Homo sapiens: one gene and its partners. The protein of the gene in region 2 interacts with the protein of the main gene of each other region in a biochemical or structural test. Each region holds a gene or a part of one and is shown on either strand. Other genes may lie near its edges. The genes, in order: AICDA, USP10, ANLN and WWTR1.

Region 1 (7,762 bases), on a different chromosome or scaffold from region 2:
ATTTATTTAACTGATTGAAAGTGAGCCAGAAGCAAATTTGCTGTCATAAAAGTTTACTAAAAATCAAGAGAAATGGCTTCGTAGCACCATTACTGCAATGTTACAATTACATACGTTGTTATTAGAATCATTTCTAAAGTTATAAATTTATGAAGCTTTGAGACTCCATTTCAATATATCAGAAAAGGAAATCATGTTAATAAAAAATCATTAGACGCAAAATAATATAAAATATAAATGAATACATGAAGTAACAATTTTTAACTCTTTTACAAACTTATGTACAATAAGATTAAAATAAGACAGTTGTGCATTCAAGTTTTCCTGTGGATCTGCTCATCTTCATTGCAAGGGTTGCTAGGTAATAACGGCACAGGGATATGGTTATTCTGAATATTTTTCTCACTGTCAAAGACAGTTGTTAGGGACAAATAGACACCAAAAGAGACAAATAGGGATCCCTTATTGGCTCCTTACATTTTGTTGGATAAAGCACAATTTCCTTGCAATGCTTCCCCATCCTTCTCTCCCAAATATTGTTCTCTTTCTCTCTCTCTCTCTTTTTTTTTTTTTTTTCTGAGACAGAGTCTTGCTCTTGTCGCCCAGGCTGGAGTGCAACGGCACGATCTCAGCTTACTGCAACCTCCACCTCCTGGGTTCAAGCGATTCTCCTGCCTCAGCCTCCCAAGTAGCTGGGATTACAGGTGCCTGCTACCACGCCTGGCTAATTTTTGCATTTTGAGTACAGACGGGGTTTTGCCATGTTGGCCAGGCTGGTCTCAAACTCCTGACCACAGGTGATCCGCCCGGCTCGGCCTCCCAAAGTGCTGGGATTACAGGCGTGAGCCACCACGCCCGGCCCTCTCTCTTTCTTTTTTTTTTTTTTTTTTTTGAGAGACAGGATCTTGTTATGTTGCCCAGGCTGGCCTTGAACACCTGTGTTCAAGCCATCCTCCCTCCTCAACCTCCCAAGCAGCTAGAACTATGAGCGTGTGCCACGGTTCGCAGCTTTATCATTCTGTTTTGTCACAACTCTCTTATATAGTTAATATACCTTTGGGAGAAGCATCACACACATACAAAATGTAGCAAACCTTGACCTGATTGGCATTTCTGAGATGAAGAGACCCACGAGAGCCAATAGATTTTCCTCTCCCCAACATTCAAGCAACTTCCTTCCAATTGTTTGCTAATTATGATATGTGAAGTTTGTGGGTGTTTCTAAATTAGGGACTTCCTTAAAAGAGTTTGCGTTTCCAGAAGATTTGCTACTTCAGACATCAACCCATTATTAGGGTGTCTTGTTCACAGTCCTCCTGCCCATTTTAAGATCCTTTATTAAAGTAGCTTGAAGGTGACCATGCATGGTCTATACCTCCATCCCCACCCATAACAATCTTCTTTTGTACAAACATAAAAACATGCTTCTGCTGATTAAAACATACAGCGCATGATTGGATATTAATGCTTTGGAGAGATGGTTTGGGGTCACAATCACCCAGATACTCTCATTAGGAGGTCCTATAGATCATGGCCTGATGGAAGAGTTTGTGTTACTTGAAAGTAAACGTCAAGGGAAAAGAATAGAAAAATCTATCACTAACACCACTGTTAACTCAAATGAATCAAATAATAAAGGATGTTGATATAAAAACATTTGATCCTCTCACCATGCTTTTTAGGATCTACCTTCTGCTCTCATCCTACCTAAAAGTCATAGAAAAACGTTGACACTTTAGGATGCTCCCAGGTCCTGCAGTTCTGTTATTCCCAGTAGGGGACAATGTTGCATTCAAAACTGCACCAATTGCAGCACGTCCCTGGCCAGACCTGTGTTCCTTCTCTATTTTCAAGACATAGATCTTTTTAAAGAGTCGTATATAAATATTTTTTCTGTAAACTCTAAGAAAGTGAGAGTTGAAGAATAAAAACAGAGAAGACTTGAAGGACTGTTTTTTATCCACTGTCTTCAGCAGAGATATTTCATCGTGTGTGACATTCCTGGAAGTTGCTATCAAAGTCCCAAAGTACGAAATGCGTCTCGTAAGTCATCAACCTCATACAGGGGCTGTAGAGAAAGAGAGAAGCAAATTGAGTGAATGGCTTCAAAACGAGGTTGGGGGTCGGTGGGGCCGGAGAGTCTTCTAAACTGAGTGGATGGCTTTGTAACATGTTGGAAGAAAGTAAATTGGGAAAGAGTTTTTTTGGGTTTTTTGTTTGTTTGTTTAAAAAAAAAAAAAAAAAAAAAAAAAAAGGAGAAAAGAATTCTGACCAGGAAGGAAACGCAACCCTGGGGAGAGACAGAAATTTAAAGATGTGAAACAACAAAAGAAAGAAAAGGGAGGGAAAAGGAACCTTAGCAGAGGGCTCTGAATGGTGAAACAGCAGAAGAAAAAGCTGATGTGGAGGAGAAATAAAGTTTTCATCAGATGAAAACTGAGAGTGATTGAACAATAAGAAAATATAAGAAATATACGAAACTCCAAAAAAGACTGTAGAGAAAGAAAGAAAATTTAAAAAGCGAGGAAGCCCCTTACCAAAAGGATGCGCCGAAGCTGTCTGGAGAGACGAACTGAATTTTCATGCAGCCCTTCCCAGGCTTTGAAAGTTCTTTCGTGGTTTTCTACAAAAGTATTCCAGCAGTAAAAATAATCTTCAAAAAAAAAAAAAGGAAAAAAAGGCGGGGATATGGGGGTAGAAGACAGTTCAGGTTCCAAATCGAGGGGAAAGAAGCAACCCTGGCCCCATTTTCTCATTTCCTCGGGGCCTTGTCTCTGAGCCATTCACTCTTTTCTCTGCTTCTAATCTTTAATTTCGGCTCCAGAGGTGAACCAGAATCCCCGCCCACTTCTTCCCCTCGAGCTTCCCCACTAACTCATTCATTCCGCATCGCAATCCCGAATGCGGGCTGCTGCACTGCGCCTGCGCGGAAGGCCCTTTCGCACCTTTGAAGGTCATGATGGCTATTTGCACCCCGGCGCGGTGCAGCCGCCGCAGCCCCTCGGGCTCAGCCTTGCGGTCCTCACAGAAGTAGAGGCGCGCGGTGAAGATCCTCAGACTGAGGTTGGGGTTCCCTCGCAGAAAGTCGGCCACATGTCGGGCACAGTCGTAGCAGGGGCTCCAGGAGGTGAACCAGGTGACGCGGTAGCAGCGGCCAGGGTCTAGGTCCCAGTCCGAGATGTAGCGGAGGAAGAGCAATTCCACGTGGCAGCCGTTCTGGAGAGACAGAGAGGACCACGCTAAAATTCACTGACTTTTATTGCGGCTCTGGTAGCCTTAGTCATTGTCTCCTGCAATGATCTTTGGGGATGCTTGCAGCTATTGTCCTTGTGTTACAGAGAGGCTAAGCAACTTGCTCAAAAGAGCACACCAGTAGGTAGAGCTGAACCCTTGGCAGCACTAGTCCTGCAGAGTGAAGGAAGGCTATGGGTTTTTGTGGAATGAGGAAGACGAAGTGCGCTGAGTTGGGAGGAAGCAGCATCACACTACCTCACCGAAGATTTAATTTGTGTTTATGAAGTTGCTTTTTGCACCTTTTGAGAAGGAAAATGGCTAGAAGTGCCTGTTGATGTAACATTGTGGAAATATACCTGGACCACTAGGTGGAGGCAGGACAGTTTATGAGGACCATTTGGGAGGATCTGAAAAGGGGAAATAGATTTTGGTAAAGCAGACAGATGGGTATTGTAAGAGAAGTAATAGGCACTGCCATGAGAAGTAAATGAAAGTGCTTGATAAAATCAAAGCCTTCTGAAATAGAATGTGTCATGTCACCGAATAGGAAGGAGATTGGGATGTATTCAATACAAATGTAGGCAAAGAAAATTGCATGGTAATATAACCATCAAACAACGAGCCAGACGATGACCTTCCACCCCACGGATGCTTCCCTGAGATTCCACCAAGCCCAGACGTCACAGCGTGTTAGGAGAGAGGAGATACCCGTGGGCAGAAGTTTATGTAAACCCATCTGGATTTTGGTGAAGAAGTCTCTTGGAAATGTAATTCTCTCGGGTAGCCGAAAGATCAATTTAATTAATCATCAGCCGAGGCTTCTCTGAGTTTTCTGGGGATCACCATGTTGAATGTATTCACTGGCCTACGACCCATGTGAGTAGGAGGGAAAAGAAATCATTTGGAAGACAGAATTGAGCCACCGTTAATTTTTTCCCAAATTCTTCTTCCTTAATTTTCAAAAATGCTTAAGACACAATTTGTTTTTCACATTTAAAATTTTTGCTTGGACAAGCTGATAATATTCTCCCATATAAAAATGCTTTTAGCTTAATTAATCTCAAAGGCAATTCAGATGCTGAGGAAAGCTGGTAAACAGTTTGGGAGCAGTTGTTCTTGGCACTGAAGGAAGGAGTGGTATTAGGGTGCCCAGCATTACTGGGGAGGAATTAAATCACATATTTTGGGCCATGTCTAATATGGGTGCATGGACATGGAAAAAGAAATAAAAAAAAGGATTTGAGGAATGTGATAGAGACACAAATGCCAAAAAAGGATGGAAGTAATACCATCAGCAGGTGGCTCTAAAAGCACTCACAGTTGACCATTAAACTGCTTGCAAAGCCGACTTTAATTGATACCTTATTGCGAAGATAACCAAAGTCCAGTGAAAAGGATGTAGCACTGTCACGCCTCTTCACTACGTAGCACAGGTAGGTCTCACGCCGACCCTTAGCCCAGCGGACATTTTTGAATTGGTAAAGAAACTTCCTCCGGTTCATCAAGAGGCTGTGGGTGAGAGGAGGGAGAGAAAATGCAAGAGTACAGTTTATAATCTGGTCACTCTGGATTTTCCTTCAGCTTTTTAAGGAAGTCATTACTTGGGCTAAACCAAAGAAGATGCTCTGACTTCCTCTGCTGGCTGCCTGAGCCCTCCTGAGCCCTGCTGAGCCTGGAATCCATCATAAACTCCTTTTCCTGCTTATATTTAAGGCCAATTGAGAGATACTCATCAAGGACCCCAAACCCTTACCCACAAGACAGTCACCTCCTGCCACTGTCTTCTAGATGCTGATGACTTGGGATTACAATTAAATTTGTTCTTCAACAAGAAAACGAAACAAAAAATAAAATAAACTTGTTCCTCAGTCCCATAATTGTATATTCAGATTTCCCCTCCAGTCTTTACCTAAGTGTCCAACTTGTACCTCAAACTCAAAATGATCAAAACAATATTCCTCAACTGCCCCCTGTCCTAAACTGCCACTCCTCCCGACTTTGCCACCTCAGGTAAGCAGCCTAGCAGCCTGGAACCATCCTTGACTCATTTCTTATTCCTCAGTCCTCATATTTAATTAATCATCTAAATGTGTTGATTCAAACCCCCCAATATTTCTTGAATTTGTACCTTCCCTGTTTGCTCTTCTCTGCTTCGGTCCAAGCCCTCATCTTCTTCCTCCTTATCTGTTGTGCTGGCCTTTTAACCGGTCTGTCTGCCTCCAGTCCCTCCAAAATAACATTCCCCACACTGTCACCACCATGATCTCACAAAAACCAGGTGCACCATGCCATTCCCATGCTGAAGACCCCCTGATGGTTCTCTTCTGCCTGCAGAATAAACTCCAAACTCTTTAATGTGGTGTTTAGGCCACTTTTTACAGTTGGATCTTGATCTAAATTTCTTTTTTTAAATTTTTTTTTTTTTGTTACGGTCTCACTTTGTCGCCCAGGCTGAAGTATACTGGCATGATCTTGGCTTACTGTAGCCTCAACCTCCCAGGCTCAGGCAGATCTGCCAGGCTCCGCGGATCCTCCTGCCTCAGCCTCCTGAGTAGCTGGGATTACAGGCGCCCACCATCATGCCCAGGTAATGTTTGTATTTTTAATAGAGACGGGGTTTCACCATCTTGGCCAGGCTGGCCTTGGACTCCTGACCTCGGGTGTTCTGCCCGCCTTGGCTTCCCAAAGTGCTGGGATTACAGGCGTGAGCCACTGCACCGGCCTATTTTTTAATGTATAAGAGCAATACCTGGCTGGGCGCAGTGGCTCACACCTGTTTTTTAATGTATAAGAGCAATACTTGGCCGGGCGCAGTGGCCTACATCTGTAATCCCAGCACTTTGGGAGGCTGAGGCAGGTGGATCCTCTGAGGTCAGGAGTTTGAGACCAGCCTGGCCAACATGGTGAAACCCCATCTCTACTAAAAATACAAACATTAGCCGAGTGTGGTGGTGGGCGCCTGTAATCCCATCTACCCGGGAGGCTGAGGCGACAGCTTTGCTTGAACCCAGGAGGTGGAGGTTGCAGTGAGCTATGGTCATGCCATTCCACTCCAGCATGGGCAACAAGACCAAAACTCCATCTCAAAAAAAAAAAAAAAAAAAAAAAAAGAAAGAGTAATACTTGATCATTGTCAAACTTGAATACTATGGAAAAATAGAAGAGCTCTAAATTTTAAAATATTAAAGATTTTTTAAATCTCAAATATCATAGTGTCTAATAATAATAATTAGACTTAGTGTCTAATGACAATGACTGTTAAGATTCTTGTGTTTATTCCTCTAGTCTTTCTACAGGCACATATTTACATGATTTGGATTATACTGATTGCATGTGTGATTTTGTACTCTGCTGCTTTTTTAACTAGTCAAAATGATCTAAATATCTTGCTATGTTGTTCCCACATAATGACTGATTTCTCCTCCTCTTTGTTTTCTGGCTCCTAGCACAGTGTCTTGCATATCATAAGCACTAATTTGAATAGCATTTGTGGAAATACTCTGGTAACCCAAGTTTCCTTAAAGAAATCAAGAGTCCCCATTGCAGCTGCAGACAGCAACACAAGCTGTACAGCATGGTTGATATGAAAGCACAAGTGATGCCTGGATTTTGTCCCTAGTCTTTTCCAGAAATGCATTTATCCAATTTGTGGAGCTAGTGCTGTCACCTAATGGTACGGGGCAGAAGTGCAGAGAATTTGCGAAGTAAAGGGCTCAGGAATTTGAATAACGTTTGCTGGCAAGAGAATTGAAAGTTTTCTTACACATTATTTTTTCTTACATTGAGGTATAATTTACATACAGTAAACTCCACCCATTTAAGATGCATAATTCTACGAATATTTTTGGATGTAAACACCCCAAACTGCTACCACAGTCAGGATACAGAACCTGAATCACCACCCTCACCCCACCAGAGCTTCTTCCCTCTTTGCAGTCCTTCCCCTCCCCACAGGACAACCACTGATTTGCTTTCTTTTTTTCCCATTTTTGTGGAGAATGGAGTTTCACTGTGTTGCCCAGGCTGGTCTTGAACTCCTGAGTTCTAGCAATCTTCCCACGTGGCCTCTCAAAGTGCTGGGATTACAGGTGTGAGCCTCTATGCCTGCCCTGATTTGCTTTCTGTAACTATAAGTTACTTTCATTTTCTAGAATTTCGTATGGCATACATTATCTCCTCCTTCATGTCTGACTCTTTCATTTAGCGTCATGACTTTGGGATTCATCCCCAAGTAGCTTCTTTGTACTGCAGGGTGGTATTCCATTGCATGGATATAGCACATTTTGTTTATTTGTTCACTTGTTGATGGATATTTGGATAGTCTCTACTTTGGGGTTTTGTGAATAAAGGTACTATGAACATTCACGTACCAGTCTTTGTGTGGATATACATTGAGAATTGATATTTTAATAATGTAGTGCAGGTGACAGACCCTGACTTTAAAAGTTAAATACCAAAATATCAGCCTAACTAAGTAGCTCATCTAGGACAACAGCTCTTTGTAGTTGTTTCCATTTATTTTTAATTT
Region 2 (7,762 bases):
CGAGTATTAACAGCTGTGTTGACTAGCCCAGTTAAGTGGTTTTTAGTGAAGTAAGAATGATTTCTCATAGGCAGTGAGAGTCCCTTCTAACCTCTAGTTGTGGTGGCGCACAAATAAGACGTGGCACTTACCAGCCTCAAGTCTCTGTCAGGTCACGGGCTCGGCACTTTTTGAAAGCAATTTTAAAGAGCCCCAGGTTAAAGGCATCTTGCTAAAAGCACAGCTTCAAGAAGACTTTTCTTGAAAGCTTTAGAATTTGTGAAAACGTATAGTACAACACTGAGGCTTGATTGGGACTGTGATTAGCTAGAGAGGATTCTCAGAATATCGAGGTGTTTGGGAAGCAGAAAAGAGGACACTGGGCCTCACTCCTGGGTCCTGCAGAGGAACAAACCTGAACCGAGAGTCCTCTTCTCTCCGTCCCCTGGCACAGCAACCCCACCTCATACCTCCTTCCATATAGATGACCCAGGAACTGTGGGCATGGCTGGCTTCTAGCCGGCTCCCTGTCTACCCTAGGGGCGCCCTATACCTTCCCGTGAAGACTCAGACACTGTCTCTCCCAGGCCTGCACACAAGAGCTGTGCTTTCTGCTGACGGGCTTGGCTGCTGTGCCGGGTTTAGTGTCCGTTGCTCCTCTCACACTTCTAGCTGCCTTATCACTCATCAGCCGATTGCTTTTTAATCCCATTTGAGGACCAGCAAGAGGAAGAAAGATGCCAGTGAGAATCATGTAACAGATCCTCCTCCCCATTTTATTCTATCCATCGGGAAACCTGGAATGCCGGCTAAGTCAAAGAAGGCATCCTCGGCCTCTGCTCCTGCATCTTCACTCGCCTCCAGATCAGCTGTCTGAGCTGACTTGGATGTTTTGCTACAGTGATTTTATTTTTATATCTTTTCTTGCTTGCTGTATTTTTATATCCGCTGCCACCTCCAATACATTATCAAAATATGACATAAATGGGGGCTGGGCGCAGTGGCTCACACCTGTAATCCCAGCACTTTGGGAGGCCGAGGCAGGCAGATCACCTGAGGTCAGGAGTTCGAGACCAGCCTGACCAACGTGGTGAAACCCCAACTCTTCTAAAAACACAAAAATTAGCCTAGCATGGTGGTGGGTGCCTGTAATCCTAGCTACTTGGGAGGCTGAGGCAGGAGAATCGCTTGAACCTGGGAAGCAGAGGTTGCTGAGATCATGCCACTGCACTCCAGCCTGGGCAACAGAGCAAGACTCCATCTCAAAAAAATAAATAAATAACATAAATGGGGGACAAGAGGACCTCACTTGGGTCATGGGTCAGAAGTACAGATGGCTGCCTCGAACAGCATGCCTCCGACGGACTCTTGTGTCGGTGTAAGTGGTACTTCTGCGCACAGTAAGAGCAGGGAGTTCCCGCCTCGTAGCAGCTGGTAGACTGGTTCCTATTTGGAGAAATCATGTTACTGTTCTGTAACTGAAGTTTTGTTTTGTTTTTTTTTTGTTTGTTTGTTTTTTTCTTGCTCTGTCACCCAGGCTGGAGTGCAGTGGCGCGATCTCGGCTCGCTGCAACCTCTGCCTCCCGGGTTCAAGTGATTCTCCTGCCTCAGCCTCCCGAGTAGCTGAGACTACAGCCGCGTGCCACCACGCCCGGGTAATTTTTTGTATTTTTAATAGAGACGTGGTTTCACTGTATTAGCCAGGATGGTCTCGATCTCCTGACCTCGTGATCGCCCGTCTCAGCCTCCCAAAGTGCTGGGATTACAGGCGTGAGCCACCGTGCCTGGCCTGTAATTGAAGTTTTATGATCTGACGCATATGTAAAATTTTAATTCTTGCCTTGGATTTTTCACAACTGTTTTTGTTTTTAAGTCAGCAGCTTTTTTCTTTTCCATTTTGTAGAGCACCTGTTTTTAAGGGGCCTCCCACAGGAGCATCACAGCCTCGGCCGTTGCTCCTGTTTCTTTAGTGAGCTGGCTGCACATTTTGTGTCCTATTACGTCACATGGCTCATTTCCTTCATGAGTCAATTTTTGTGCAACTGAAGGGATAGAGTGTTGTTTTGTTCCTGGTCTGACAGGCAGTTTACTTGCTGGGGAGAATGTTGTTAGCCATTTTCTGCTGCTGTTACCCTGAACCTTTCTAAAAGTGCTTCAAGCCATTGATATTTTGTTTTCCAGAACTGCTTTCTCCAGGGGTTAAAAATAAGAATTTTAAATGCCACCGAACCTATCGGCTCTTTGCAGGTGAGTAAATTTGTACGACATTACTTCTTCATTAAAACACTGATGAAGGGGTTTACAGCTGGGCACAGGTTTGCTGCAACTTAGCATAGCGACCAGATGCTGTACTCAGGTATCCCTGTGGCCTTGTGAGTCGGGGAGTCACGTGAGAGTTTTACCTGAAACTCTGCGTAGATGACGGATTATCATCTTGGCCCTGAGGACAGATAACAGAAGACCTTGCTCAAAGCGAACATTTCTGTCTTTGAGTCAGAGGAGGGAGTTTCAGGCTCCCAGGCTGGCTGTTTGAGAATGTGACCTCTCCCGGCTGTGCTTGTGGCACCTGTGGGTGACAGTGCTGTGGAGTTTCCACGACACCTGGTCACCCAGCCAGGTTGGGTGAGCGCGCCCCCAGCCGGTGATCCCTGCGTCCTCCCCCACAGGTATTGTTAGGGCTGCTTGAGAGGGTGGGCCCGATTACACAAGCTCCTCGGCTGCCAGGCCCTCAGTCAGTCATGAGAAATCTCCCAACAGGGTGAATGGCACCCCCTGTTCCCTCATGGGTGGACCTTGAGACCTCTTCTGTCTCCTGGCTTAGGCTCCCTGCAGTATCATTTTTTCTGCCACATCATCTTCCCTTTCCTTTCTGCCTTCCCTTTTATCCTTCTTTCTCTTTTATAGCGTCATCTTTTATGCCTCTGAGTCTTTACCTCTTTGGATTGTTGCTGTTTGCCGCACTTTTGTTTGCTTCCCAGGCTGTTTTTACTACATGTTTCTAGCTTCTGTGTCTTCCCTCCTCTGGTGTGGCCTTTGGTGAACCTGTTTGTATCGTAACATAACACTGCCATTTATTGACCTTCACACATGTATTGAACCTCTTCCCAAGATATTCTTTCATTTCCTTACATGTGTCCTAGGAGATGGGAGGTGGGATCCCTGTTTTATAAAAGAATAAACCAGAACTCAAGGAAGAAAACTCACCACTCTGGCCTGCAGTGGCAGAGCAGGGCTTCAAGCTCCTGTCCACCTCAGCTCACGCCCGATGTTTTAGGAAGTTTGGCGAGTGGGTGAGGGCCCAGGGATGGGGGCCCAGGGGTGAGGGCCTAGCGGTGGGGGCCCAGGGGTGAGGGCCCAGTGGGTGAGGCCCAGAGCCACACTGCAAGGTGCCAGGCTTCCCTCTCTTCCTCTCACTATTCATTGTTCCTTTTGACTCTCTTCTTTTCTCCCCCCGATCACAATTCCTCCTCAACTTGCTGGGCCTCAGATGGGACGGCCATGGGCACCACGCGCTTGTGGGTGTCTCCAGCCCTGTCTGGAATGGAAGGTCTGAGTCCTCAGACTCTGCAGCCAGCCATTATCCTGCCTGGCTCCTTGGAGTGTGGCACCCAGGTCCCAGTGGGTGGCCAGCAGTTTCTCCGCCTTCTCCCTGCACCTCTTCCCCTGGAGGCTCTTGCGGGGGACATCACTGGGCAGGGGCAGGGGCTAGGGATTGCTCCTCTCCTGGTCAGGGCCCCAGTGTGAGCACACACACCCCTCCCCGACTCTGCAACCTGCCTCGCCCCGGGACCTGGGCCTGGGTTGCTCTCCCCTGCCCTCCTGAATCCTCATCCCCTAACCCATTATTTTTTTGAGATAGAGTTTTGCTCTGTCGCCCAGGCTGGAGTGCAGTGGCACAGTCTCCATTCACTGCAACCTCTGCCTCCCAGGTTCAAGTGATTCTTGTGCCTCAGCCCCCCGAGTAGCTGGGATTACAGCTGTGCACCACCACATCCAGCTAATTTTTGTATTTTGAATAGAGACGAGGTTTCGCCCTTTTGGCCAGGCTGGAAGCCTATTCTGATCTTGGAAATGAGGTCACCGGACTGGTTAGAATTACCTGTAGAGTGAGCAAAGGAACACTTTTTAAGAACTGCTGTGATTGTGGGGCCTGGGAGAAGCAATCTCGCGCACAAGCTTTTCAGGCGGTTCTCAGCGCTCCTGTCAGGGGGGCTTGCAGGTGTGAGTGACACACGGCTCAGCCCAGGGTAGTTAACTGGGCTGCTGCTTATGAAACTAGAATGGTGACATGCAGTCCCCCTTGACATTTTAGAATGGAGATGTCTTGTGGGAAAGACAAGTTAGTAAAACCCCCAGGCCCTGCAGATTCTACTGATGGTCGCTTTGAAGCAAAACTCTTAGCCCAGTCAGTTAGGTCTGTGAGGTGAAGATCTAGGACAGAAGTCTCAAAGTGAACTTGGGATCCAGGGGACATGCTGCTGTCATGGGTGCTTCCTGCCCTTTCACAAGATGGCTGTGACTTGTGCAGCACAGGATGAAGCTATGCCCTTGGATTGGCTGTGTCCCTGGCTCTCCGAAGTACGGGCCCCACAGTCTTGCTGTCCCTATGCTGTTCAGTCTCCTCCGGGGTCCCTGCACAGAGGATTTCTTTGTGCAGAGCCCAGGAGTCTGACTGGTGGCCTCAGTCATAAGCACTGTCCTCTAGCCAGCCAAGGTCCCTGGCCCAGAGAGGACTGAGGCCTCCTGCTGTCATTTAGCCCCTCCACGTGACAACTGCGACTAGAACCTGGTGATGTTTGGTCTTGTTTTAGTGCTGAAATTCCCTACCAGCCAAGTCTTGCATCTCTCCTGGTTCCTTTTCTTTTGTGCCACTGATGGTGGGCGCAGCTTAGCAGGCTGCCCTGTCATTCCCCGCGGAATGCTGCCGGACAGCCGCCTTCCCGAGGCTGGTGTCTGCTGCTGGCCAGGCAGACCTGTGCCCCTCTGCTCCATAGAAGTGGAGGATGTGTTCTGTGGCTGTCTTAATGTTTTCATGACATCTTCTACAGATTTTTTGTTTTAGGCCTTTGACTAAGGCTTCTTGGTTATAGGATTTTTTTTTTAAGTAAATAACTGTGTGTGTGTGTGTGTGTGTGTGTGTTTTGTTCTGTTAAAACATAGAAAAATGGGTAATTTTTTTTAAAGGCAAATGCGTAACTACCAGCACCATCTCCGCAGTGCCCCACCACAGCTCCACGCTCAAGCAACCGTGGTTAGCAGTCCCAGGGTCCCTCCTGCCATGTGGGCCGGCACCGGGAGATTGTGTCCCGTGTCTTTAGGATAGATGGGCCACAGAAGGCCTAAGGACCTTGTTTTCTCATTTAATATACCATAAGCGTATTCCCGCATCACCATTCTTAATCTATTCCACGAAAAAATAAATTGTGTTATTTTAATATAATTTACTCATCAGTCATTTCTTCTAGTGGCTATTGAGGTTTTCCGTTTTTTCACTGTTATAAATGACATCATAATCTCTGTCCAAGATTCAGATAATCTCTTCAGGACAGTCTAGAAGTAGAGTCAGCCACATCCAAGGGCATGAGCCAGGTCTGTAGGCCTGTACAGCTGATGGCTGTGTAGGAGTGTCTGTGTGAGGCGTGGGACATTTTAAATATGTGGTTAATATGCGTACATGCACACATGTACCTATCTGACTTACCCTTACCTTGCAGTTATAGAAAAGTTTTTATTATGGATTGCTTGCGTGTTTGAGTTGAAATAGCATTGGTTTGTGTGATGACATCTCTCTGTCCCACCTGCTTTGGAGAGGGGTTTTACACATAGGATGCATCCCTGGAGGGAAGTCGGCGGAGACCTGTAATGATTCGTGTGCAGTGCTGTTCTCACTCTGCTGCCTGCTGGGCTCTCTTCCAGTGGTCTACCATCACGGCAACAGTGCGACGGGCGGCCATTACACTACAGACGTCTTCCAGATCGGTCTGAATGGCTGGCTGCGCATCGATGACCAGACAGTCAAGGTGATCAACCAGTACCAGGTGGTGAAACCAACTGCTGAACGCACAGCCTACCTCCTGTATTACCGCCGAGTGGACCTGCTGTAAACCCTGTGTGCGCTGTGTGTGCGCCCAGTGCCCGCTTCGTAGGACACCACCTCACACTCACTTCCCGCCTCTCTTTAGTGGCTCTTTAGAGAGAAACTCTTTCTCCCTTTGCAAAAATGGGCTAGAATGAAAAGGAGATGCCTTGGGGTTCGTGCACAACACAGCTTCTGTTGACTCTAACTTCCAAATCAAAATCATTTGGTTGAAACAGACTGTTGCTTGATTTTAGAAAATACACAAAAACCCATATTTCTGAAATAATGCTGATTCCTGAGATAAGAAAGTGGATTTGATCCCCAGTCTCATTGCTTAGTAGAATAAATCCTGCACCAGCAACAACACTTGTAAATTTGTGAAAATGAATTTTATCTTTCCTTAAAAAAGAAATTTTTTAATCCATCACACTTTTCTTCCCTACCCTTTAGTTTTTGATAAATGATAAAAATGAGCCAGTTATCAAAGAAGAACTAGTTCTTACTTCAAAAGAAAAATAAACATAAAAAATAAGTTGCTGGTTCCTAACAGGAAAAATTTTAATAATTGTACTGAGAGAAACTGCTTACGTACACATTGCAGATCAAATATTTGGAGTTAAAATGTTAGTCTACATAGATGGGTGATTGTAACTTTATTGCCATTAAAAGATTTCAAATTGCATTCATGCTTCTGTGTACACATAATGAAAAATGGGCAAATAATGAAGATCTCTCCTTCAGTCTGCTCTGTTTAATTCTGCTGTCTGCTCTTCTCTAATGCTGCGTCCCTAATTGTACACAGTTTAGTGATATCTAGGAGTATAAAGTTGTCGCCCATCAATAAAAATCACAAAGTTGGTTTAAAGGTGTGTGCGTGTTTCTTTGAATGCGAATGCCTTTTCGGGTAACTGAAATTCATGGGGGCATGAGTTTGCCTGCAGAATTAAAATCTGCCCTTCGATCAGCTCGACGTGTTTGTGGAAGCTGAACCACCACTCAGGTTATGCTTGTTTAGTATTTTCAAATGGATTAGTGATTTGGGTACACGAAGTTTTTGACTCTTCGATTGGCAGAAAGGAGGAGGTTTTCTCCCCTTCCCCTCCTCATCCCTTGTTTCTATAGCCCACCGTTTTCAGTATCACCAAAATAGTTGCTGTAGGTCAAGGCTAAATGCTCTTCAGTTGAGTGCCACTGGGGCGGCTGAGCGGTGCCTCCAGACGCCACCCTCAGTAGTGGGAAGGAAGCCTTCTGAGACGGAAGACATGGAGAGAGGGATGTCACGTGCAAGGGTGCCCGTGCCCCGGCTTCTGGCCCTGTGTGGATGATTGTGGTGTCCTGAGATCTACAGAGAAGGGGTTTTAACGTGGTCTGAGCCTTTCTCTCAAGTTCTTGCTCTTACCATCTGGTATTTCTGATTGTAGCCTGGTGCCATCTGGGGTTCAGAGCTTCCTAAACTTTCTGTACAAGTGTTGTCCGTCTAACCTACTTACCCTTTGTAATTCTATTGTGATTTGCTTGGCTGAATTATAACTCATATTGAGAGGTGAAGCCAGCTGGACTTCCTGGGTCAAGTGGGGACTTGGAGAACTTTTCTGTCCTCTAAGAGGATGGTAAAATGCACCAATCAGCACTTTGTAGCTAGGATTGTAAAACGCACCAACCAGCACTCTGTAGCTAGCAAGAGGTTTGTAAAATGCACCAATC
Region 3 (7,762 bases), on a different chromosome or scaffold from region 2:
ATATATGTAGATCAAAAATTAAGGATTGATTTTTAAGCTCATTAATTTCAAGCAAAGAAAATAATGGCAACCTTTTCCTGGAACAAATAGCCCAGTAGCTCTCGCTCTCTTACATCATAATTTATCTAAAACAGACAAAATAAGAGACAGAGAAAAAAAGACCCAGGATCACTCAACTGGTTAAAGTAGCTGAATTACTAAATAAAAAGTTACAAAAATTTTTAAAATTAACTTGTTAAAACACATTCATGCATTAATAGTAATCAAAACTTCAAATACAGTCTGCTTTTTGTCCATCAACTAAAAGAAAGCATTTCATAGAATTTTAGATTGTTTCAGGCTAAACTAATATTTCTGTACTGGAAAACAAGACCCTAGAGAGATGAGGTGACTTTGCTCAATGTTAAAGAGTAAATCACTAAGGGTAAATACTAGAAACCAGGGCTTCTAATTTTTACACTTCTTCATCTCTATATTCGCACTACAGAAATCTCACATGATAATATAAATTATCACTGTATTATATAGAAGTCAACCCAAGAAATAAAATTTGCCTCTAGTTGTCTTACTCCTTAAAATAGTCTTGGTGAAAAAAAGACTCAATAGTGATGTTAACACAGATCTGATTTTTGAAGCTTCTAATATGAAAGGGAAGTATGAGAAGGAAATCTCTTAGATTCGTAAGTACTTTTCTAAGAGGTTAATCTACCTTTCACTGTCTTGTCAAAACTAAATTCATAAAATATTGTTCATTTCAAAATATAGGTTCAAATAGGCTGGCCGGGCAAGGTGGCTCACACCTATAATCCCAGCACTTTGGGAGGCCAAGGCAGACAGATGGCCAGAGCCCAGGAGTTCGAGACCAGCCTAGCCAACACGATGAAACCCCATCTCTACAAAACAATAGTAAAAATTAGCCAGGCGTGGCATCACGTGCCTGTAGTCCCAGCTACTTGGAAGGCTAAGGTGGGAGCCCGCGAGGCTGAGGCTTCAGTGAGCCATGCACTCCAACCTAGGTGACAGAGTGAGACCCTGTCTCAAAAACAAAAAAACAAAAAAACAAAAAAAACCACAAAGAAATGGAAATAGGCAAGATATTATGTTTTAAAATTATAAACTTAACATCTAAATGCAGGAAGTAATACTTCTTTAGTCAGAAGTGATACTTAGAATAAGCAAGCATCCACTGAAGTTCTAACTATTAAAAGGGAGACATACTTCCAAGACAAAAAAAAAAAAAAACATTTAGGTACACTCATACCTAGCAAAAATGTGCAATTCTAAGAACATATGTTTTCAGTCGAAGATTTCAAATACCTAAAAGCATTGTGGCATTTCCATTGAGCTAATTTTTCTAAGATTAAAAAAAAAACACCACACCCTTAGAAATAAAGTTGGATTACCTTGTCCAGAACAAACTTAGTATTTCCTACTGAAGACAATGATAATGTGTAAGATCCAACAAGGGCGAAGTTGCTGGTTCGCACAGCACTAAGACCTCCTGGACTGGCCATGACTGTGAAGAACGAGGAAATTAAGTTTAGTTCAGAATGACTTTTGTTAAGTATAAGTAACAATTCCTCACCCCATCCCAGTAGAAGAAAATTAAGCTGCCACAGAGAAAAAAAAACTGCCTCATTTTCCTTCATCTTTAAATGTGGGGGGAAAAATCAACTTATTTCCTAATGAAAGAGGTACAAGCACTCCTTAATAATTGGGATGGATGTGTTTTTAAAGATATAGACCTAAAAATGTATGCATAAAAAGCAACTTCCCGATAAAAAACATGGAAAAGACTTCAGTGCTAGTTATAATGCAGGGTGACAAAATCAGCAGCAGAAACTATCTCTGTACAGGTCTCTTAGTAACTCTCTTGCACCACAGAGAAGAAAGAGACCAATAGCCTAAAGGAAGTGAGTGAAACCAGCTCCATCCTAATTCCTTTTGGAAAAAGATAGGCCTAAAGTCATTCTAAAGAAGGCCTTTCCTGGCTTAACAGCATTCCAGTTCCCAGTGAACTAGAAAGATGCATTTCTGACATGATACAACGCCAGTTATGATCAGTAAAGCTAAAAGAAGTAAAATCTGCAGTATGGAAAGCACAAAACAAATCTATAGAACAATAGAAGTTGAAGTAAAGAGTAATGCCACCTGCTGCTAGAGCTGAATAACATGATGACTGGTGCCTCTATGGTGGTACCTAACAAAGGTGCAACCAAACTGCATCCTACTCTGGCCAGTAATCCTGTTACTAAGAAACTCACATAGAAAATATTATTCCAAAGGAGATCAAGGTAAACATTCACAAATCAAGATGGCCTATATATATGTAAATATGCAAGTGCTTAATTCCTTACCTTATTCTAAAGTTTCAAATAGTTCAAGATACACTCACCTGAAGAATGAATGTTGCTTTTCTAAAAAAAAAAAAAAAGGTGTGAAGAAGAAACATAAGTTATTTCCCTTATTTAATACAAAGATTTAAATATGAATCACTCATCTCTTTTAACACAATAAGAAATACATTTCAGAAAACACTTTTCCTACATAAATTACAGGGATATCCCCCCATTAGTACATGTTAAAATTTTCCACAGTGCTCAAGGTTCAGAAATGGTTAACCAATTTAAAACTGTATGGGTAAGATGAAGATTTCTCAAGGAAGCTCAATTTCTCAAAAATTCTACTTACTGTGGTTATAGATGTGAGGAGTCGCTTTGGAGTAATAGCCTAAAAGAAAAGATAGCTTACTATATATATTTCTTATTAAACATTATGTCTCAGAAAGTAAAACTATCCAACCTTGAGAAATTCCTACATAGAAAATAATTAATTCTTAGCCGGGAGCAGTGGCTCACGCCTGTAATCCCATCACTTTGGGAGGCTGAGGCGGGCGGATCATGAGGTCAAGAGATTGAGACCACCCTTGCTAACATGGTGAAACCCCCTCTCTGCTAAAAATACAAAAAATTAGTCAGATGTGGTGGCACACACCTGTAGTCCCAGCTTCACAGGAGGCTGAGGCAGGAGAATCGCTTGAACCTGGGAGGTGGAGGTTGCAGTGGGCTGAGATCACGCCACTGCACTCCAGTCTGGGCAACAGAGCGAGACTCCGTCTCAAAAAAAAAAAAAAAAAAAGAATGAGTTCTTAAATATGAATACATTACACATGAGTCCTTGAGTAATTAATTCTTAAATATGAAAACATTACACTTGAGTCCCTGATTAAGGCTTTCTTATACTGTTAGTCCTTTTTTGTTAGAGCTAAAAAAAAAAAGTTTTTAAAATGATGACTTAAGAAAAGAACACAGACTGGGAAGGCTGGAAAGCAACCTTATGCCTGCAAAGTGACCACATAATTATTAAGTACTGGTATAGAGAACACAGAGAGAAGAGGGCTCAGGGAAAAGTCTTGAGAAAAGTTTTAAGCAGTTATAAAAGTTGCCAAGTAAATGTAGAGAAAATAGAATTATCTAGCCCGAGTGTATCAGGAACTTATACTGACAATCATGATCACTCACAGTTTATTTTCAGTATTCATACCTATTTAACATAGTAACTACAAATTGGAACATGAAACTGATCCAAAAACTTCCTAATCATTAAAAGTTGTACATAAATTAAAACTGGTATGATGATATCTATTACTTCTGATGAAAATATTTTTACTGGGTTTCTTTAATTCTCACCTTGGACTTGGATGTTTTTTTCTTCTTATCAAGGCCTGAGGGATCTTTCTTTTGCACCTACGCACAAACCCAAAGCATAATTAATTTATAATCTGATATTGTTAAGAAAAATATACTCTTCATTATTTTAGAAGGCTTTATCAGCTTACCAAGCTGTAAACTTCAATATTTATTTCAAAGTCATTGGATACATCTTGCCTGGAAAAATAAAGCATTAAGTAAAACCTTGAGAGAAAACCTCAATCACACCATTAAAAATGATGCTACAAATACTCTTACAAGACTCTAAGTAAAGGAATCCACTATGACTTTAAAGTCAATAAAAATTGTTAAGAAGTCTATTTTTTCCCTATAATGCAAGTCCAAAATATTTTCCTCCGTGTTTTACAACTCACAATCTTCAATAATAAAAGTAGTAATTATTTTTCAAACTGCACTTTGACTCTTATTTAAAAATAAATGTTTCACTAAATATAAACGTATTTTCATTAAGACTGAATGTTAAGTACATTATGAGATTTAAGGCATATGTTAAAAATCTATGGTCCAGGTTTAATGTATATATCATTTCAAAATATGTAATACCTACAGTCATGTGGAAAAAAGGTGCTATTCAACAAAAGGAAGGATAGAAACATATGAGTTAAAGCAACAAATTGAAAGATGGGTTATTTGTCAATATAAAAAGAATGTGCATAAGGCGTTTCAAAGATTATAAATGCCACCTGAATGCTTTAGACTGTATCAACTCTACAAAAAGAAAAATGCATTCGAATCATCAAAAGCCTGATTTACTTACAGAGTAAATGTAGTAGTGAATGTCAGAGCATCACCGTTAAGAGAGTTTGAAGTACTTGCTAATGGTGTGGCTACCATATTTTCAGCTCCTGCTTTTAGTATAATTAAGTAATAGTAATTTGCTGCATCTGTAAGAAGTAATCATATTACATAGTAAGCACAAGCAAAATCAGATTTAGCTAATCAGCATTCTGGAATACCAAAGAAATAAAGGAATATTGAACTGATTTATATACAATTTATTTTTAAAATTACTAAAATCAACTTTCCAGACACAAAAAGCTAAATAAGACTTAAGTAGGCAGTATAATCCTGAAATAAGCATCATCAAGGTCTCTCCCTGTTATGTAAATTGAAATAATTTCACTCCACATTTCTCAATTTCTGCTGATTTTGAATTTTACCTAGTGACCCTTAATTCTTAACTAATAGTACATATCTCAAAAGGGTAAATTATGGTTTGTTATTTCAAAACTGAAATTAAAATACTGTATTTCTATAAAAGTTACTCAGAGATAAATGATAATAAAAACATAAACTATTTCTTCACCATTTGTCATTAATAACCACGTACCTCCAGACGCATACTAAATTACCAATAAATTTCTGCCCACACCCCATCAAAATCAGATAACATCAAGAATTAGAACCTAAATTACCTTATTCCTACAAAAGTGCTCAAACCTTTCACAACCTCCATTTACTTTCCCTATGCCTGAAATTTGCTTCTCACCTATGTCTAGCCCTCCTTCCCCTCAAAAAGAAATTTTTTAAAATAAATTGTGTATAAATCAGTTCAGTATTCCTTTATTTCTTTGGTATTCCAGAACACACACAAAAAAATTTGTGTTCCACACAAATAAAATTTTAAAAGGAACTTTAAAAACCATATCCAACATTTAATAAAACTTTATATTCAAACTTTCAGTAAGAGCAATGTCCATTATTGTGTAGATTGGTATCCCTATATATATCTGAAGTTTTCTTATTTTTATTATATCTCAATAAAAGGACCTAAAGGCCAAAGATACAAACTTTGCATTGTTATGCATGATTTACTTGTTTCTATTCTGTACAATTCAATCTAGGTGAGGTTCATAATTTAACACACAATCTAGAAAAATCACCACCATACCTGGTTTCTGAACCGTACTGCAGACAAAATCTGCTTTTAGAGGCAAGCGGATTTCTGACAAAGTAACTGATCCTTTGGATGGCATAAATTCACTTTGGGGACTAGCCTTATTCTTCCTCTGAGGTCCTTCGTTCTTCAATTTATTCAATTCATCAATCAAAAGTGTTCTCTTCCCAGCTATGTAAAACAACGCAATATTCCAAATATTAAAATCGTAACTGTTTCTAATGAGAGCAAATTCAAAAAAGTGTACTGATATGGAAACTGTACGTAACAGCGAAGACGAAATCAGTAACACTATCTTTATAAAACATGGTAGGTGGTTGGGGAAAACCTTGGTTGCTCATTTACCAAGTCCTTATAATTTAATACATCAACTTTCGGCTAGTTTTCATGTGTGGTATCATCTGTCCACCCCAAAATGCCCCATCATCACCACATATACGCACACAGCAAAATTCACAGAAGTTGTTTTAGCTATTTATTGATAAGGGAAGGAAGGGAGAGAGAGAGAGAGAGAGAGAGAATGTATGTGTACATGTGTATATATAGAGATTCATTCATTCATCCATTCATTCATTCAATCTGCACAACTGCATTTCTTCAAATGCCTTTCGGTTGCTTCTACCTTTCATGCAAACTACAATTTGTTTTACATAGAGTTCTTAAACCTTATAAAAACAAGAACAAAAAATAGATCCACTGGAACAGATGACTAGGAAAAGCCCTTTCTCTAAACTTAAAGATTTCTAAATATCAAAATGAGTTTTCCCTGGTTAGAAATTTGTTGGAACTCTTTCAGGTGCATCACACTTACTTGCAATTAGAAGAAGTCTTTCTGCTTCAGCTTCTTCTAGGGACCCTTTTCCATGTTCTTCATCAACACAGCAGTTAAGAGCCTGGCTAGCTTGATAGATCACTGTCTGTTGCATATTTATTTCGTTATTGAGTTCCTAGGAAAACCAATGAGAGGAGAAAAAATATACACATTTTAAATCATCATTTTCACTTTAAATTTTAATTCTAACTAACTTGATTGGATAGTTTCTAGAATTTCCAGATGAAAGTCAAAATGTTAGTTTCACTGCTCAAGTTTCTCGACTATGCACCAAAAACATTTAGCATGTTACAATAATTAAGCTATAAATATTATTCCTTATGAAAAAACTTCCAATTCATACTTATTAAAGTTAAAATTGGGGTTACATCCAACAACGTAGAAATTTAGAAAGTATCTGATTCATTTTATTTAAATTACAATTACACTGTTTTTTTTTAATATGCTTCCTTAGGGCCAGGCATGGTGGCTCACACCCGTAATCCCAGCACTTTGGGAGTCCAAGGCACAAGAATCATTTGAGCCCAGGAGTGTGAGATCAGCCTAGAAAACATAGTGAGACTCCATCTCTATTTTTTTTTATAATTAAAATATTTTTTTTAAAAGCCAGGCATGGTGGCTCATGCCTGTAATCCTAGCACTTTGGGAGGCTGAGGTGGGTGGGTCACCTGAGTTCAAGAGTTTGAGACTAGCCTGACCAACATAGTGAAACCCCATCTCTACTAAAAATATAAAAATTAGCCAGGTGTGGTGGTGCATGCCTGTAATCTCAGCTACTTGGGAGGCTGAGGCAGGAGAATTGCTTGAACCCGGGAGGCAGAGGTTGCAGTCAGCCAAGATTGCGCCATTACAATCTAACTTGGGCAACAAAGAGCAAAATGCTGTCTCAAAAAAAAAAAGCTTCCTTAGCATGAAAAAACCTTGAAGAGCATAACAAATTTCCCACTACATCATTATCCAATTAATAGTTATACTTTAAGGATATTTATGAAAAACTTGTTTAAAAATAAATATTTCAGCAATATCAAATGAGTTTCCAAGTTTTCAAAAAGAGTACCTTTCCAAAAATAAACTGAATTCAAATGTGATTTACTGAGCTTCTATGCATCAGACACTATTCTGGCCACTCAGGGTTCAGAGATAAGTAAGGCTGGGCCCTTTGTCCTCACAGAGCTCACAGCCTAGTGCAAGAAACATTCCAAAGCCCCTTTCCACAAAAGTACATACCTGCATTTTCTGTTTGATATTAACTTGACAAGGAAAGGCATTATTTTTTTCATCCAGTTTTGAAGTAACATCTTC
Region 4 (6,053 bases), on a different chromosome or scaffold from region 2:
GATTTGGAATGAGGTTGGTAAATTAGTCACCAGCCAGTTTCATCTTCTATAAACTTTCCATTCACATTATTGATCCATATTTCTATTGGGCTGTTTGTTTTTTCTATTGGTTTATAAGAGTTTGTTGTATATTCTACACCACCATACCTGGCTAATGTTTATATATTTTTGTAGAGACAAGGTCTCACAATGTTACCCAGGCTGGTCTCAAACTGCTGGGCTCAAGCAATGCTCCCGCCTCAGCCTCCCAAATTGCCAGGATTACAGGCATAAGCCATCGTGCCCAGCAAGAATCCTGTATTTTTGATGGTCTTGTCAAATCTGTGAGGGTGTTGGGAGGACAATGATGTGATATATATATATTTAAAGGTATATGTTTTTATTTTTAAAGGTGTATATATACACCTTTAAAAACCTCAGTGGACATTGTAAATAAAGTGGAAACTAGAATTCTGTGAACATTTAGAATGTTGAAGGCCAGGCACGTGAGCCAAGAAATTGTTTGCCTGCAGATTTTTCTTTCTTTCATTGTCTGCCAGGAGGGTTACATAAGCCTGTCTTCAGTACCACCCAAATCCCCTAGTAAAAGGAACACAGACAAATAATGAAAAGTCAAAAGCTCCAAGTGGAAGTTCAATTGTCTTTATTTTTCTTATACAGATTCAGAGAAGTAAAAACCAGTACCAAACTCCAGGTAAAATGGTTTGATCTGATCGATTTGGCTGCATACTTTCGGTACGTATAACATTCTAAACTTAAAATAGAAATTTTTATATTACAAAACGTAGAAGTAAAATTTTAAAAAGTTAAAGTACTAGCACATATATGTGTTAGGAAAATGGTCTCTGTCAATTGCCCATTTTCCCAATTAAATTAACCTACGATTTCCTTTTTTTAACAGCTTATTTTTTTCATAAAAGTTGTACTTTGAGAAGTTACTTTCTAATTACGTCATGAGAACACAACTTGTAATTAGCAACACTTCTGTCAGTCTAGATCACTTCTTCTGCAGAGAGCTTTTCAACCAAGTTGGCATCAACCAGCACAATAAAGTTTTCACTGTTTTACCTGTTTCCTGTATATGGTGTAATCAGTGAAAGAAATGGCATTTCACATCCTAAATAATACGGTGAAACACTGTCTAAAAATTACTTAGATTTAACAGAATTGCAATTAGGTTTTGACAATGTATTTACTTCAAGACAATGTATTTTATCAGGAAAAAATATCTTGAAAGAAAGATCTCTGAAATTATTTTTCATTTGATACGCCTTTTCTGTGACAAAATTTTGGGGTGAAATGATGATGTTTACTGATTGATTTAGTACTAAAAAGACTAGTACTAAGAAGACTAAAGACAGTTATCTTATAATAAGAAATATAGTATAAATAGCACCTTATCAAGAATTCTGCAGGGGTTTTAACACTTACAATAATAGGAAATAGCCATTAAAAAGTTGCTCTAACTTTAGATTTCTAACTTTAGTGTTCTTTAACAAAGGCCATATTTTGTGGCCTTAAAAACAAAAAATTATATCTGGCTTTATCTATTAGTAAACACAAAGGGTCCATATTTTATTCTGAAAAAATATTTATTATATTCATTCATAAATGTTCTAACTAATTTAACTAAAAAAATCTTCTAGTATTTTCTGATGCCACAAGCTTACTAGAAAATTACTTCTAAAAATTGGTAATATAAATCATCAATGATTTACCTACTTTAAAAAAGAGGGGTATCTGTTTCTCTTACATTTAATAACCTGAAAATGAGTCTATAAAAATATTTTTTAAAAATACAGTAACACTGCTGAGTTTTGTTAGGTCCCTTGTTTTTTTAATTTTTTATTTATTTATTTATTTTTAGCAAGAATGTACAATTCTTTTTGCAATTTTTTGCTAACAAAAGACAAAAAGAAATAGTGCTCCCTTCAATTTAGTAGCAATAAAATCATCTATCTTCATCTCTCTCAGAGGGCTTAGGGAGAGTGAAAGGAATTAGAGGAACATAAACCATGGGTCCTTCAGGTAAAATAAGTCATTTCATAGTGATGGAGGCAACAGCAGGCTACGCTCTTGTCTGCCTGTACGCTCAGCATCAGCATGCCCTGCCCCTCCTCCTCCCACATAAGGTGCACCAAAGCCTTCTTTTCTTCTACAACAGAGTCTTCCGGTATAAAGGTGGCAACAGAAAATTGTTGCTTTGTCCTTTTGGGGCATCTCTTGCATCTCCTGCTTGTTTTGCTTTTGGGGTACTATAACTTGTCTCTTTCCATTTCACAACTAGTATCCTTTCCACGATATTCCATAACTTTGCTACTTCATCTCTGACCTTTTCACTTGCCTTCTTTCCAACATGATCCAATGTACTCTGTACATGTATATTCCGGTAGATCAAAAGGAATCTTATTTAAGATCCCCAACAAATAAGTCCCCCATGGAAATTGAAAGTATCCTCTCAGAGACTCAAATTATTAAAGTCTTTCAAAAAAGATTAAATTCATAGATTATAAATAATATTAGTTCAAAATATTAAACAGTTGAGGACTTCATTGGCAATGCAGGCAGACTGCATGCCAGTTGAACATGATGCTCTCTCAGTCCTTAAAAGCTAATTAAAAATGGTTTTGGTTACATAAGAGGTATTGAATACATATTTCATGCCTTTTTATACCAACTGTAGCAAACAGGATTAGGATAATATACTTAGGAATCAATTTTACTGAATTCAGAAACATTTATCTCCACCATACACCCTCAAAGGGCATTTTTTTTTACATGTCAGTCAGAGATCTGCTTCATCCTTCAGTTTCATAGATAGAATTATTTTAAACACTTGAAATCTAGGAAGCAAACCTGACAAGGCTTCAGAATTTAAAAAGCAACAGCTCACTGTGTGTGGTGTGCTATCAGGTTGAAATCTATGTTGTCCTGATGTTTTCAGAGTTATTTCAAAAGACAAAAATACAGTTGCCACTGATTTATCAAAAACATTTGGCTGCCTTTTGTCATCAGCTACAAAATTACAGTGCTTTATAAAATAAACATCAAGGCCGGGTGCGGTGGCTCACGCCAGTAATCCCAGCACTTTGGGAGGCCGAGATGGGTGGATCACCTGAGATCAGGAGTTTGAGAACAGCCTGACCATTATGGTGAAACCCCGTCTCTACTCAAAATACAAAAAATTAGCCGGACGTGGTGGCAGGTGCCTGTAATCCCAGCTACTCGGGAGGCTAAGGCAGGAGAATCGCTTGAACCCAGAAGGCAGAGGTTGCAGTGAGCCGAGATTGTGCCATTGCATTCCAGCCTGGACAACAAGAGCAAAACTCGATCTCAAAAACAAACAAACAACATCAAGAAAAAAAAAAACCATCAGATTCTAAGCTGCAATTTTTTAAATCCCCAGTTGTAATATTTCAAAAACTTTTGTTTGAATAAAATGCTCATAATTAGTACCAAACTGGTCTCTTTCACAAGATCTGTAGTGTAAGACCTGTGACTAATGCTGCTGCTGCTACTTTCCCGCTGGAGGGACTAAGTTGTCTAGATGCTCTGCAGTAAAATAACGAAAGATAAGCTACAATAGGACTGTGTGCCTTTATAAATACAGACTAATAAGAGCCATCAGAGCCAGCATGGATTCAAAATTACATTGTATTCCATACAGTAGAATTTTACTATCCATACAATGATTTTTAAAGCTCAAGTTAAATAGTTTTTAAAGCATTTGGTACTACTGTCATCAATACAGTTTTTGAAACTGTAAATCAGGTCGAATTTTGTGCACATTTCCTGGACCAAGATGCCCTCAGAAGTAACTGCCTGTGGTCAGCTTTTTATGGTTTAAAATCAATTGGTGTATAAATTTCAATTAACACCCATAAAGCTTAGCCATGGGGCAGCAGAGAAGAAAGAGAAAAGTATTCTGCATAATCAATCCTGCAGACACAATTCTGTATAATCTGTCACAAGAACGCAGGCTTGCAGAAAATGAAAATAGAATATTTATTTATGTTTAACTTAAGTTACTCTCAATCAAAACCAGGCAATGATTAAACTGGCAACATAAAAAGGAGGGAGCACGAGTCATGGAGGCGGGAAGTGGTGCACCTGCAGACTTGCTCTGCTCCATCACTTTTTCCAAGAGGCCCAGGAAATGTAAGGTCATGGCTACATCCAAGTTACAATGGTAGTGATTACAGCCAGGTTAGAAAGGGCTCACTTTTGTTCAGAGCAGACTCTACATCATTGAAGAGGGGGATCAGGTCTTCAGATTCCAAAGTTCCTAAGTCAACGTTTGTTCCTGGAAGACAGTCAAGGAAATCAGGGAAACGGGTCTGTTGGGGATTGATGTTCATGGGTGTTTGTCCTGCGTTTTCTCCTATAACAAAATGAAAAGAAACCATTTTAATTCCTTCTTTTAGGCTCTTGAAGGAGGAACAGTTCAAGTATTTACATAACCCTCACCTTCATGTCTTCAACTACCACATTATTGACCCTTACTCATAAGAGGTACAGAGATGTGGAAGAAATCGAAAATTATTTCTGGATAGGTGTGGTCCAGAATGGAAAAGGCCAAGGAGATAAGAAAGGAGCATGTGAAAGGCACTGTGGATCTGATCTATGATCTGTGCCTTCCCATGACAAAGGTGTGAAGAACTGTTTTACAAAAGAGTAGAGAGGCCTTGTCTGTAATAAACAGCTTATTACAGAACTATAATCTACAGGTTTCATTGTAAGCTTAGGTTTACCCATACCATCCTTCTTTATGTTCAAAGAGAATGGTGTGAAGCTTCTTTTAACCAGGCTATTAAAAAGTTGTCTTCATTGATGACTTTAGGCATCATTTATAAAGGCAGTTCTGCAGACGTTTTCCCTCTTTCTGTAATACCTACACCCTACAACTATCTGCCTTTCTCACAAGCATATGAGCACAGTGCATATGAGCATGTTAAGGCTTTAAGTCTTAGAGTAAAGAAATCTTTTGTTTTCTTTAAGACACTATTTCCTAAACCCATTTAATCACCTAAACCTATTTTGGCAGTATGTGTATTCAAATAAAACTGAAGTTCTACAGAACACAGGTGAGAAAATGCTGTACTAGAGGAAAAGTAGGTGTCTGGGATATGACATGAAGAATATAGGTTCTTTATGTGTCATAGTATGGGACAGAATGCACTACTGACTTTGGTGTCATTAGATCGAGCTTTGTGGCTGTGTAAGCTTAGACACACTTAACCTGCCTGATTCTCAGTTTACCCATCTAGAAATTGGGATCATATGCTCCTTTTACAAAAGTTAGAGTAAAGTGCCATATAGTGTCTGCCACATATCCATGGCTCTGGGTGTCATTGATATATACAAAGTTATATACATACAAAAATATAATAAATGTTCATTGTCCTGAGAGAAAGAAAAACCCAGGTCTTCAGCCACTATTAATTACACAATATCAAAACAACAGGTTAATTCAAAAAGTCCCAAACAATTTTCTGAAGAGATAATATCTACTTCAAAAATTGAGAAGCATTGATAACTAAGGCCAGCTTCCACCATAACGTCATTTTTTAAAAACTTGTTAAATTATCTTTTGTGTGTTACAAGTGCAGTAGCCTTCCTGAAACGTGTGTAGGGAAGTTTCACTATTTTAAGCAAAATTGCCGAAAGTTCACTTTAGCAATCTGTGTTTTCCAGGGAGAAAAATTATATCCTTCCAAATGATGAAGGAACCATCATCCAATTTGGATTTTGGTGATAGCAAAACACAATGGCTTTTCTAGAAGTCACAAAATATAAATGACTCCTGGGTAACATTTTACAGTATTTTCATTGCAAAGGGTAGTAAACTGAAAAATTAAATCAAATTCAACAATATGACCTCAATATAGTGTTACTGATATTGAAAAATAACGTTAAACGAAAAAACAAAATCCAAAATAACTTTCTTCTACTTACTAGAGTGTAACAGATAAAAATGAGGCTTTAAAAAGTGTCTAAAAAACAATCTGATCTAATGTGCTGGATGCCTTTTTTTCTCTTCATCTCCAGTTAGA

Evidence for each region.
Region 1: the proteins of USP10 (region 2) and AICDA form a complex in vitro, tested with the Homo sapiens proteins (one study listed by BioGRID).
Region 3: the proteins of USP10 (region 2) and ANLN form a complex in vitro, tested with the Homo sapiens proteins (one study listed by BioGRID).
Region 4: of the proteins of USP10 (region 2) and WWTR1, one has a biochemical effect on the other in vitro, tested with the Homo sapiens proteins (one study listed by BioGRID).

Annotation. Positions count from the first base shown.
Region 1 is NC_000012.12:8,602,270-8,610,031, forward strand, and holds part of AICDA (single-stranded DNA cytosine deaminase), read right to left. Parts: intron 4,744-7,762; coding exon 4,596-4,743; intron 3,217-4,595; coding exon 2,946-3,216; intron 2,654-2,945; coding exon 2,538-2,653; intron 2,069-2,537; coding exon 2,015-2,068; 3' UTR 1-2,014. UniProt on the Homo sapiens protein: Single-stranded DNA-specific cytidine deaminase. Involved in somatic hypermutation (SHM), gene conversion, and class-switch recombination (CSR) in B-lymphocytes by deaminating C to U during transcription of Ig-variable (V) and Ig-switch (S) region DNA.
Region 2 is NC_000016.10:84,773,000-84,780,761, forward strand, and holds the end of USP10 (ubiquitin carboxyl-terminal hydrolase 10), read left to right. Parts: intron 1-2,160; coding exon 2,161-2,226; intron 2,227-5,895; coding exon 5,896-6,083; 3' UTR 6,084-6,923; downstream 6,924-7,762. UniProt on the Homo sapiens protein: Hydrolase that can remove conjugated ubiquitin from target proteins such as p53/TP53, RPS2/us5, RPS3/us3, RPS10/eS10, BECN1, SNX3 and CFTR.
Region 3 is NC_000007.14:36,420,670-36,428,431, reverse strand, and holds part of ANLN (anillin), read right to left. Parts: coding exon 7,688-7,762; intron 6,576-7,687; coding exon 6,440-6,575; intron 5,800-6,439; coding exon 5,623-5,799; intron 4,616-5,622; coding exon 4,489-4,615; intron 3,888-4,488; coding exon 3,839-3,887; intron 3,747-3,838; coding exon 3,690-3,746; intron 2,731-3,689; coding exon 2,692-2,730; intron 2,418-2,691; coding exon 2,396-2,417; intron 1,517-2,395; coding exon 1,404-1,516; intron 126-1,403; coding exon of another isoform or gene 72-125; intron 1-71. UniProt on the Homo sapiens protein: Required for cytokinesis. Essential for the structural integrity of the cleavage furrow and for completion of cleavage furrow ingression. Plays a role in bleb assembly during metaphase and anaphase of mitosis.
Region 4 is NC_000003.12:149,516,609-149,522,661, forward strand, and holds the end of WWTR1 (WW domain-containing transcription regulator protein 1), read right to left. Parts: intron 4,382-6,053; coding exon 4,197-4,381; 3' UTR 627-4,196; downstream 1-626. UniProt on the Homo sapiens protein: Transcriptional coactivator which acts as a downstream regulatory target in the Hippo signaling pathway that plays a pivotal role in organ size control and tumor suppression by restricting proliferation and promoting apoptosis.